2 linked regions of the Homo sapiens genome follow. The protein of the gene in region 1 purifies or fractionates together with the protein of each later gene. This does not show direct contact. Each region holds a gene or a part of one and is shown in the gene's direction. Other genes may lie near its edges.

What was found. Proteins that work in one complex are often made in the same cells at the same time.
Region 2: the proteins of PCCA (region 1) and THG1L fractionate together in Homo sapiens (co-fractionation; one large-scale study listed by BioGRID). This does not show direct contact.

Annotation. Positions count from the first base shown.
Region 1 is NC_000013.11:100,301,849-100,306,420, forward strand, and holds part of PCCA (propionyl-CoA carboxylase alpha chain, mitochondrial isoform a precursor), read left to right. Parts: intron 1-1,075; coding exon 1,076-1,150; intron 1,151-3,902; exon of another isoform or gene 3,903-3,986; intron 3,987-4,572. UniProt on the Homo sapiens protein: This is one of the 2 subunits of the biotin-dependent propionyl-CoA carboxylase (PCC), a mitochondrial enzyme involved in the catabolism of odd chain fatty acids, branched-chain amino acids isoleucine, threonine, methionine, and valine and other metabolites.
Region 2 is NC_000005.10:157,729,512-157,734,219, forward strand, and holds the start of THG1L (probable tRNA(His) guanylyltransferase), read left to right. Parts: upstream 1-1,908; 5' UTR 1,909-1,929; coding exon 1,930-2,120; intron 2,121-2,287; exon of another isoform or gene 2,288-2,498; intron 2,499-2,918; exon of another isoform or gene 2,919-3,099; coding exon of another isoform or gene 3,100-3,104; intron 3,105-3,356; coding exon 3,357-3,533; intron 3,534-4,708. UniProt on the Homo sapiens protein: Adds a GMP to the 5'-end of tRNA(His) after transcription and RNase P cleavage. This step is essential for proper recognition of the tRNA and for the fidelity of protein synthesis.

The DNA of each region.
Region 1 (4,572 bases):
CAACAGAGCATTGGTTAAATACTCTTGAGCTTGAATGGACCATGGTTTTTGTTTTGTTTGCATTTTCTTTGTTTATTTTCAAACAACACTAACAAGAAGTAGCATTTATTTCCATGGGTTTTTTAAAAAAATGCCCACCTTGGGTACACATTAGTTGTTGATCAGATATTTACTTAAAATTTTTCCCAACCTTTTTTTTGTATAATTTTCTCCTTTATTATTACATAAAAATAACAATCAAAATTTAAATTGTAAAGCTTTTAGTAAAACATGTACTCTTAATTTATAATTTTAATTTTGGGTTTTACTCATAAACTCTCAGTTCAGTACTTCTAAATGCTTTTTTTCAAATGACTAAAACAAGAATGCAAGGTAACATTTGTACTATTTTTACTTTTCGACATCAAAAATGTCTGTCAAGATTAAAAATAAATCAGTGTCTGTGTTTAAGAATACTGAGAGCTGGTTTGAAATATTTTTCAAGGAGTTCAAAAATATGTTTTGGCGTGACTGTATTGCTCTTGCTTTTTTCATATTTTAAGTAGTATTACTTTCATTCTTATGACACTGAACCTGTTTATTCTGATGATCTAAGATATTTACAAATGAAGTGCATATCTAGTAGCGTGCAAAGTTTTTTTTTTCAGGTCTTTATTTGAAGAACCCAAATTCTCAAGTTTTACCATATGTGAACTGTTTTGAGAAGTAAGAAAAACAAATATCTTTAGTATACCACATTTGTTGTTCTAAACTTGAGTATGTTTTGATGTAGGGCCTAGGTTATTTTATTTTTTGCCCAAGGCATTCTAAGAAGTTTTATAAAATGTTGGAATTTTACCAATTTCAATAAAGTATGAACAAGGTCAGGCTAAATTCTGCTTACAGTTCTGTTTGATTTTTAAGTACATTCTAAGTTGTCTAGCGTAAAAGACAATAATATTCTGAAATCTGTGATTTGGTAAATACCATATGTTGAAAATAGACCTATAAATGGTTCTTCATTGTGTAAATATTTAACCTTACTTGTGCTGATTTATATTTCAAAGACTGTGCTTCCTTTCCTTTGAACTTTCAGGACCCCTACAAGTCTTTTGGTTTACCATCTATTGGGAGATTGTCTCAGTACCAAGAACCGTTACATCTACCTGGTGTAAGTCATTAAGCTGTAATACCAGCTGAAGGGTTAAAATCGTGATTTATGTCATACTTTTATGTTAAAGCATGTCAACACCAAAGGGTGTAAATTGAAGGACAAGTGAAATTCATGGGAATCATGGTTTTTGTGTTGAAAACAAATTTTTTTCAGTATTTTGTGGTGTTCAAGAAAGTCAGGATTCACTGGACAGGGGAAGCCTGGGGACATCTGATGATATAAATGATAGCTTACAGTGTTCCCAATTCTTTCGAAAATTATAATAAAAAAGGCTGTGAATCCTAAGAATGAGAAATGATGTTTTGTGTTACAATTTAATCTTTTCAATAAATCGAGTCCAACCCTGCTATATAGTCACTTGTCAAGAAATTCAAGCACAAAATCAGCTCCTTAATTGAAATTTAAGGAGATTGAATTAAGGCAAACAAAGTGTGCCTCAGTCTATTAAACCTCATGGACTTTAAAGAGTAATAATATTTATATCAGTTAAATAAAAGTGACCACTGTCCATTTTATTCCATAGCTCTTCTGTATTTAATAGCTATTTTGAAAATAGTTTTTGTTGCAGAAAAAGAGCAAGGACATACCCTTTTTCTTAATCAAGGTAATAAGTGCATATATATATATATATATGACATTATGTTAGCTAGTAGATGACAAGGCTGTACCATCTGTGAATATTCAAATTATTCATTTTGATTACTGGCATGAAGATGGTGAAAGATTACAGGAAGAATTCTAAATCTGAAGATATTATTGGATATATGATTTATTTCACTTTTTAAATTGTTTTTGCCCATGTGCTTTCTAAAGGGACTTGACCCTTTCTGTGCTTGGAGACTCCATGCTGTGTTCAAAGCCAGAAGGCAGAAAAAAAATTGTGAAGATTTAACAGGCATTATGTGACGTTAAATAGCACATGAGAAAACAAGTATCATAGGGACATATCTAAACACTTTTTTAATCAAACAAAAGAAGTATTAAATAAGAATTCATAATGATTACTCTAGTTGTTAGAAGTTTTCACCATGTTGTAATAGCTAACAGGATGTCAAACATTTTGCCCTCGCAAGTTTTTGCAATTTGCAATTTTCAAACGTGAGACCTGTTGAAAGTACAAGTGATAATGGACAAACTATACCCCCTACAGTCTTCATCCCACCAAATCTTTCTTCAATTAATGCTGCAGCAGGAGTTTTATGTAATAACATTTGCAGTTGTGAGCCATCCATAGAAAGAAAAAACAATTAAAATGCCTTAAATGTTCTGCTTACTGCTGTTATTTGCTTGTGTGAATGTTGCATGTCAGCTAAATGGACCAAGGAGTAGATAAAGTGATTGGGTGCAGGAGAGTGCACACTAAGCTTTGTCTATCATTATTGCTGGGAGCAATCAAATTGATGTCAGCAGGACAGTAGATGCGTTGACAGCTGTAATTATGTATCTCCATGGTGATCACTTTTGGCCTGTCATGGAGGCCCATGAGTCCCCTCCCTTGGAAGCATTTAATCAGATTGGGCTGTCACTTGTCAGGTAGACATGGCGGGCTGGGAGTTGTGCTTAGGGGGAGAGGTGAATTGAGAATGAAGGGTGGGAGATGTCTGATAGTTTCACAGAGTCCACTGTGGTACTGAAGACAGAAATTTTAATTATGCTAGAGGTTTCTGAGCAGTGGTTTGAGAATCTCGTACAGAGGTGCTTGGGTGTTTTGTTGTGGTTGTTATTGTTTGTTTTTCTTCCTTGTCTTATTAAAACTAGAGCAGTCAGTTTACCTTAGAAAACAATTTTTGGCTCTTACCTTTTTTGGTCACAAGAATGCATACTTAAGAGTTAACTTATGGTTTGTACTTTTCACATGCTTCATTAAGCCTGAGATTTATTAATATGGCAGAGGTGAAGATTTCCTTTTTTATTTTTGATCATCATGTTTTGTAAATTTGTTATTTTCAGACCACAGTTTTGTTCTGCTCAGAAATTTGGTTCTGATTTCATTTGAATTTTTTCTTAAAGTTTTTAGTGCAAATTTGTATAGCCTTTCATTGAAGGAATGGAGACTTGATCTGACTTCAGATTGGTTGTTAAGAAATAAAAATATAGCTGATTATTACTTGGAAAAAGCAGCATAAATAGTAAATTATAAAGCAGAGTTTTCATACTGTGGTACAGTTTTTAATTGGGAATACTGATTTGCTTATACAAAGATACGTGTTTATATATATCTTGATTTTATCGTATGTATTTTAAAGTTAAGATGACATAACTTCTGTGATCATAATATTAGTAAATAACAAAGACAGTTATATTTAATTAAGATCTGTAGGTAACACCTTATAGGATGATATTATTCAAGGCAACTGAAGTTTTAAGTAAGGAACTGTAGAAGAACATAATAAATATTCTTTATTGTCTATGTTATTTTATTTGTGGGTTGAACATCTAAGTTCTTCCTAGCTTTGTAGCAGTTTATGTAGCAAATGATAGGATGTAGTTAAAGTCAGAAGTTTTAGAACTTGTATCAGTCTCGTTTGTAAACACAGCATTAGCAAGCATGCTGTGGTTTTAAAGATGACATAGTGGTCAAATTAGCTCTTTCACTTTTTAGTACTAAAATTAAGAAAATGAAAACTCACAGATATATTTTCTGTTATGTAACCCGTTTACTAGTTGCCATTTTGGGGCTCTTTAATGTGGGGAAAAGGTAGATTGTGATTTTATTGCTTTTAAAGCTGCTCCATTAATTTTTTTCTAGTTTTTGTCAACACTGTGAATTTCATAGAACATCAGTTTATGTCCTGAAATATGTTTTCAGAAAATAGAAAGCCAAGTATATTTCGTAAGTGTGCTGAATGATTTTTGTTTATAATTAAGATTTTTGTATATGAATGTGAATACGAATACAGATATCTATATTTTTGTTTGTGCTTGCAAATACAGAAATAAAAGCCCTTCAGGTATGTTATAGTGTTCCTTTTACAACCTTACAAAGAGAATAATAGTAGTGTGAATTTTAAGAAAATGAAACTATCGCTTGTCTTCTGATGTCACCGTATAATAAAGCCATCATTATACCCTCATGTGGATATCCTAGACAAGAGGTTCTACATGTGGTCCCTTGATAATTGCCTAAATTAAAATATTAAAGGCCTAACAGCCGCTGTGTTGACCTTTTTCTGCCTTGCTGCAGACAGATGAGCTGCTGTTTATTAGGAAGGCTTCTTCCCACAGGTGGAAGGCTACGTGAGCTTCCGCTCTTCTCTTCCCACCCCTTTACAATGTTGGGCATCAAAGTCCTGCTGTTCCAGCAGCTTTGATTCAGTTCCTCCATCCTCAAGACCCCTAGGATGTGCCTGACAGTCTGAAGTATTTTGATTAGCTTTTAAATACTTCAGATTCCAAAACTTCTTTCTAATAATTTAATA
Region 2 (4,708 bases), on another chromosome or scaffold:
TTGGCTTATTTTATATTCAGCCCATCCCTGATAGGAGTCTCATCTCCCAGTGTGGGATGTGGATGGGGAAACCCTGTTTCTACAAAAAAAAATACAAATATTAGGTGGGCATGGTGGCACGCACCTGTAGTCCCAGCTACTAGGAAGGGAGGTGGGAGGTTCACCTGAACCCAAGAGGTCTAGGCTGCAGTGAGCTGAGATCATGCCATTGTACTCCAGCCTAGGTGACAGTGAGACTCTGTCTCGAAAACATACACATAAAAAAAATAAAAATCATGAATTCATATTGATAAGTAATTTTGAAAAATTCACCTAATGAAAGTAGGGCTCCTAGAGGAGGCAAGATTTGGTTGTCTCCTGGTCAGCTTGGAGAGAGGAGTTTGTGGAAGTAAAAGGTGAGGAATGATAACCTACAGAAAACTGACTTCACAGCAACAGAAACAAAGAAAAGATGCAGGATGTCATAATTTATGTCTTGGTCCTGCCACATATGTGACCTTATGTAAATTATTTTTTTCTCTTTGAGTCTCAGATTTCCCCTTTGTAAAGGTGAAATCCCAGTTCCTCTTTTGCATCCCTCTGATGTTACTCTGAGCATCAAAGGAGTGATGACTACCATTTGTGGTACTATTATGAGGATATACACACATACTGATATAGATCCCTGTATGGATACACAAAAAACTGGTAACAGTAACTGCCTAAAGTATGTTGTTAGGAGTCAGTGAGAGACTTTTTGCTACATATAAAAGGATTTATATTGTTTGAATATTTTTCTTTTTCTTTAGAGACAGATTCTTGCTCTGTCACCAAGGCTGGAGTGCAGTGGCTAATGATGGGTCACTGCAGTCTCGAACTCCTGGCCTCAAGTATCTTCCCACCTCATCCTCCCATAGCTAGGACTACGGGCATGGGCTACTAAGCCTGGATAATTTTTTTTCTTTTTTGTAGGAACAGGGGTCTTGCTACGTTGCCAAGGCTGGTATGAATCTCCTGAACTCAAGCAATCCTCCTGCCTCTGCCTCCCAAAGTGCTGGGATTACAGGCGTCAGCCACCGTGCCTGGCCTGAATATCTTTCTTGAGGATGGAAAAAAAAAAAAAGTAAGTAAGTAGGTAATGAATTTGAAAGAGCTTTGTAAATCACAAAGTATGACACAAATATTAGGATTTTATTTTTACTATTATCCACCAGCAACAAGATATCAAACACTGGTTCTGTGATTATTTAATGGTGAAAAAGTTGAATAAATCAATTTAGTATACCCATATGTTGGAATATTGAGTCCATTTTTCTTTTAAAAATCACACTTTGGAATAATTGATGATACTGGCAAATGCTCAAGCTGAGTGGAAAAATATATAAACATTGTATAGGCGAATAATTCCAATCTTGTGCATTCCCTGTGTAAACCTACATACACAAAAAGAAAAAAGACTGAAAGGAACCATCCACAATGCTTTGATGGGAAAGACGGAGAAACAAAGTGTTAATTTTCTTAACTATAGTTTTGGTGTATTCCAGATTTTCTACAAGTTAATAAATGCCACTAAGAAAAGGGGAAACATCACAGCTACACCTTCAAACACCAGAAAAAGAATTTTTTTTTTTTTTTTTTTTTTTAGGTTGGGGTATGATTTTGATCTGGGCACTAACGGGGACACTGATTGCTTTTGCCAGTAAGTCAAGACCAGCAGATAAAAAATAATTTTTAAAAACCTCGTGAGACTGATTTGCCGCAGGACGGGAGGAGGAAGAAGCAAGCGTGGAAGGTGCTAACGGAGGAACCTAAACCTCCATCCTCTTTGCCTGGGAGGTTAAGAACTACAGGGAGAGGCGAGAGAGACTATGACTGCCCTACGGCTAGAGTAGCCGCGAAGAGAACACTTCCGGGGCGGGGCTATCTGGCCCTTTCCTTTCCGCGTGTAGAATGTGGGGCGCCTGTAAAGTTAAGGTTCACGATTCCTTGGCCACCATTTCCATCACTCTGAGACGGTACCTGAGATTGGGGGCGACCATGGCAAAAAGCAAGTTCGAGTACGTGAGGGACTTCGAGGCTGACGACACCTGCCTGGCACACTGCTGGGTGGTAGTGCGGCTGGACGGCCGGAATTTCCATCGGTGAGCGAGCTCGACTCGGGGCGTCGCGATGCGCCAGCGCTTCCGGGGAATCCAGCTTCTTCCCTTGCAAGTCCTCCCGCCCGCTCCAGTCACGGTTACCAGGGTAACGCGGTAGCCAATGAGTGCGCAGCATGGAGCATTGCCCCGCCCTGCGTGTTGGCTAGGACAGTGCCTGAACGCTGGCTGTTAGCGTAATTGAATGGGCGATGTGCTCCCGTGATGAGGATCTGGCTTGGAGTGCCCGTGTTAAGTGAACAGAGACTTGTTAGCAAGGACCTGTTGTTAAAAGTCACTCTCATGCACAATATTTAAGCTCTTAAGCCAATTGCCTAGCTATTCTGTTAGATATCTTTGAATGCTGACTGTTCAGAAGTCTGTGTAAGCCTTGCTTGTGGGCAATACTTAACGTCTGTGCTTCATTATCAGTAACAGGCCACATGGACTAGATTCAACAGAGAGTCAGAAAAAAAGAGAAGGCTGGGCGCGGGAGGCAGGAGGATCACTTAAGGCCAGGAGTTGGAGACCAAGTTTTTGTTTTTGTTTTGTTTTTTCTGTGGTTGTTGTTTGTGAAACTCCGCCACTACAAAAAAAAAAAAAAAAAAAAAAAAAAAAAGAGAGAGAGAGAGAGAAAGAAGGAAGAGAGAAAGAAAGAAAAAGAAAAAATTTAATTTGCCCGGCGCAGTGGTGCACACATGTAGTTCCAGCTACTGGGAAGGCTGAGGTGGAAGGATCGCTTGAGCCTGGGAGGTCAAGGCTGCAGTGAGCGGTGATTGGACACTGCACTCCAGCTTGGGTGACAGAGCAAGACCCTGTCTCAGAAAAAGAGGGAGGGGGAGAAAGAAATATAACAGAAAGATGGGAATTTAATCTTTGAAGAGGGCTGCATTGTTAATGATTATTATAACTAACATTTATTGAGCACTTACTAGGAGCTAGGTATGATTACTTTTATCTTCTCCCTAATCTTCAGGACAACCCAATGAGGTAAATATTCTTTTATTCCCATTTCACAGAAAGGAGAGTTGAGGCTTAGCATTTCTGTCTGGCTTTCTCAATTTCAGGGCAGGAAAAAAACTAAGTTCTTAAGAAAATGGATCAGGTTGTGGCTAGTTGAGCATTTGAGTTCACAGTGCTATTACATTATCTTCCTCCAAACAGCCTCTGTTATCTAGCAACAGAGCGTGTTGTTAATGACAGGCTTCCATCCATGCTTTCTTCCCTTTTTCCCCTGTGAAGGTTTGCTGAGAAGCACAACTTTGCAAAACCCAATGACAGCCGTGCTCTCCAGCTGATGACCAAATGTGCGCAGACTGTGATGGAAGAACTAGAGGATATTGTGATCGCGTATGGACAGAGTGATGAGTACAGCTTTGTGTTCAAGCGGAAAACCAATTGGTTTAAAAGAAGAGCCAGGTAATTCCATGACCTAACTCCTTTCTTCAGAATATTTCCTCCCAGCATCTGGTTTTCTGTTTATCTTAATCGCAGACTTACAGGCTACAGATGATGTCTGCAGTATTTGTAACTGCAGAGTACATGTATATTTCCTGTTTAGATTGTTGTACTTCCATCTGATAGCCGAGCATTCTGTGTGCCTCTTTTATCTGATTCTTTCCCCACATGCCCCATAAGATTGGTTTCTAGACTGACCTGGCATTGAACATTAAGATTAGAAACAGAGACTATAAGAATGTAATATTAACAATTCATAGGTTGGCTTTAGCCAGTGATAGTCTCTACGTGCATTGCATTACACTGTTCCTCAAGACAGATCTCATTATAAAATACACAAATCTGATATTTGATTTGGCAGTATTTTGAAACGCTGTATGGGAAACAAATCATATAATGAATTGGTTTTTTCTTTCTTTCTTTTTTTAATAGAGGTGGGGTCTCTCTGTGTTGCCCAGGCTGGTCTCAAACTCCTGGCCTCAAGCAGTTCTCCTGTCTTGGCCTCTCGAAGTGCTAGGATTACAGACATGAGCCACCACGCCCAGCCTGAATTGGCATTTTTTTTACAACAATGGTTTCTCTCCTTTCATGACTGTAAACACAAACAGATCAGGCGTGGTGGCTCACGCCTGTAATCCCAACACTTTGAGAGGGTAAGGGAGAGGATTACTTGAGCCCAGAGGTTTGAGACCAGCCTGGGCAAGATGGTGAGACCTCATCTCTACAAAAAATTTAAAAATTAGCCGGGCTCAGTGGCATGTGCCTATAGTCACAGCTACTAAGGAGGTTGAGGCAGGAGGATCCATTGAGCCAAGGAATTTGAGGCAGCAGTGAGCTATGATTGTGCCAATCCACCCCAGCCTGAGGGACAGAGAGATTCCATCTTTTAAAAAATAAAATAAAATTTAAAAATACCCCTTGAATCATAAATTCGTATCACATCCTGTAGGGAAAGGTTTAGTATCAGTAGGTTACTTAATAGAACTGGAAGGAGAGGCAGGCTGCATTTAAAATACATAACTGGCCAGGTGTGATGACTCACGCCTGTAATCCCAGCACTTTGGGAGGCTGAGGCAGGCAGATGACTTGAGGTCAGAAGTTTGAGACTAGCCTGGCCAACATGGTGAAACCCCATC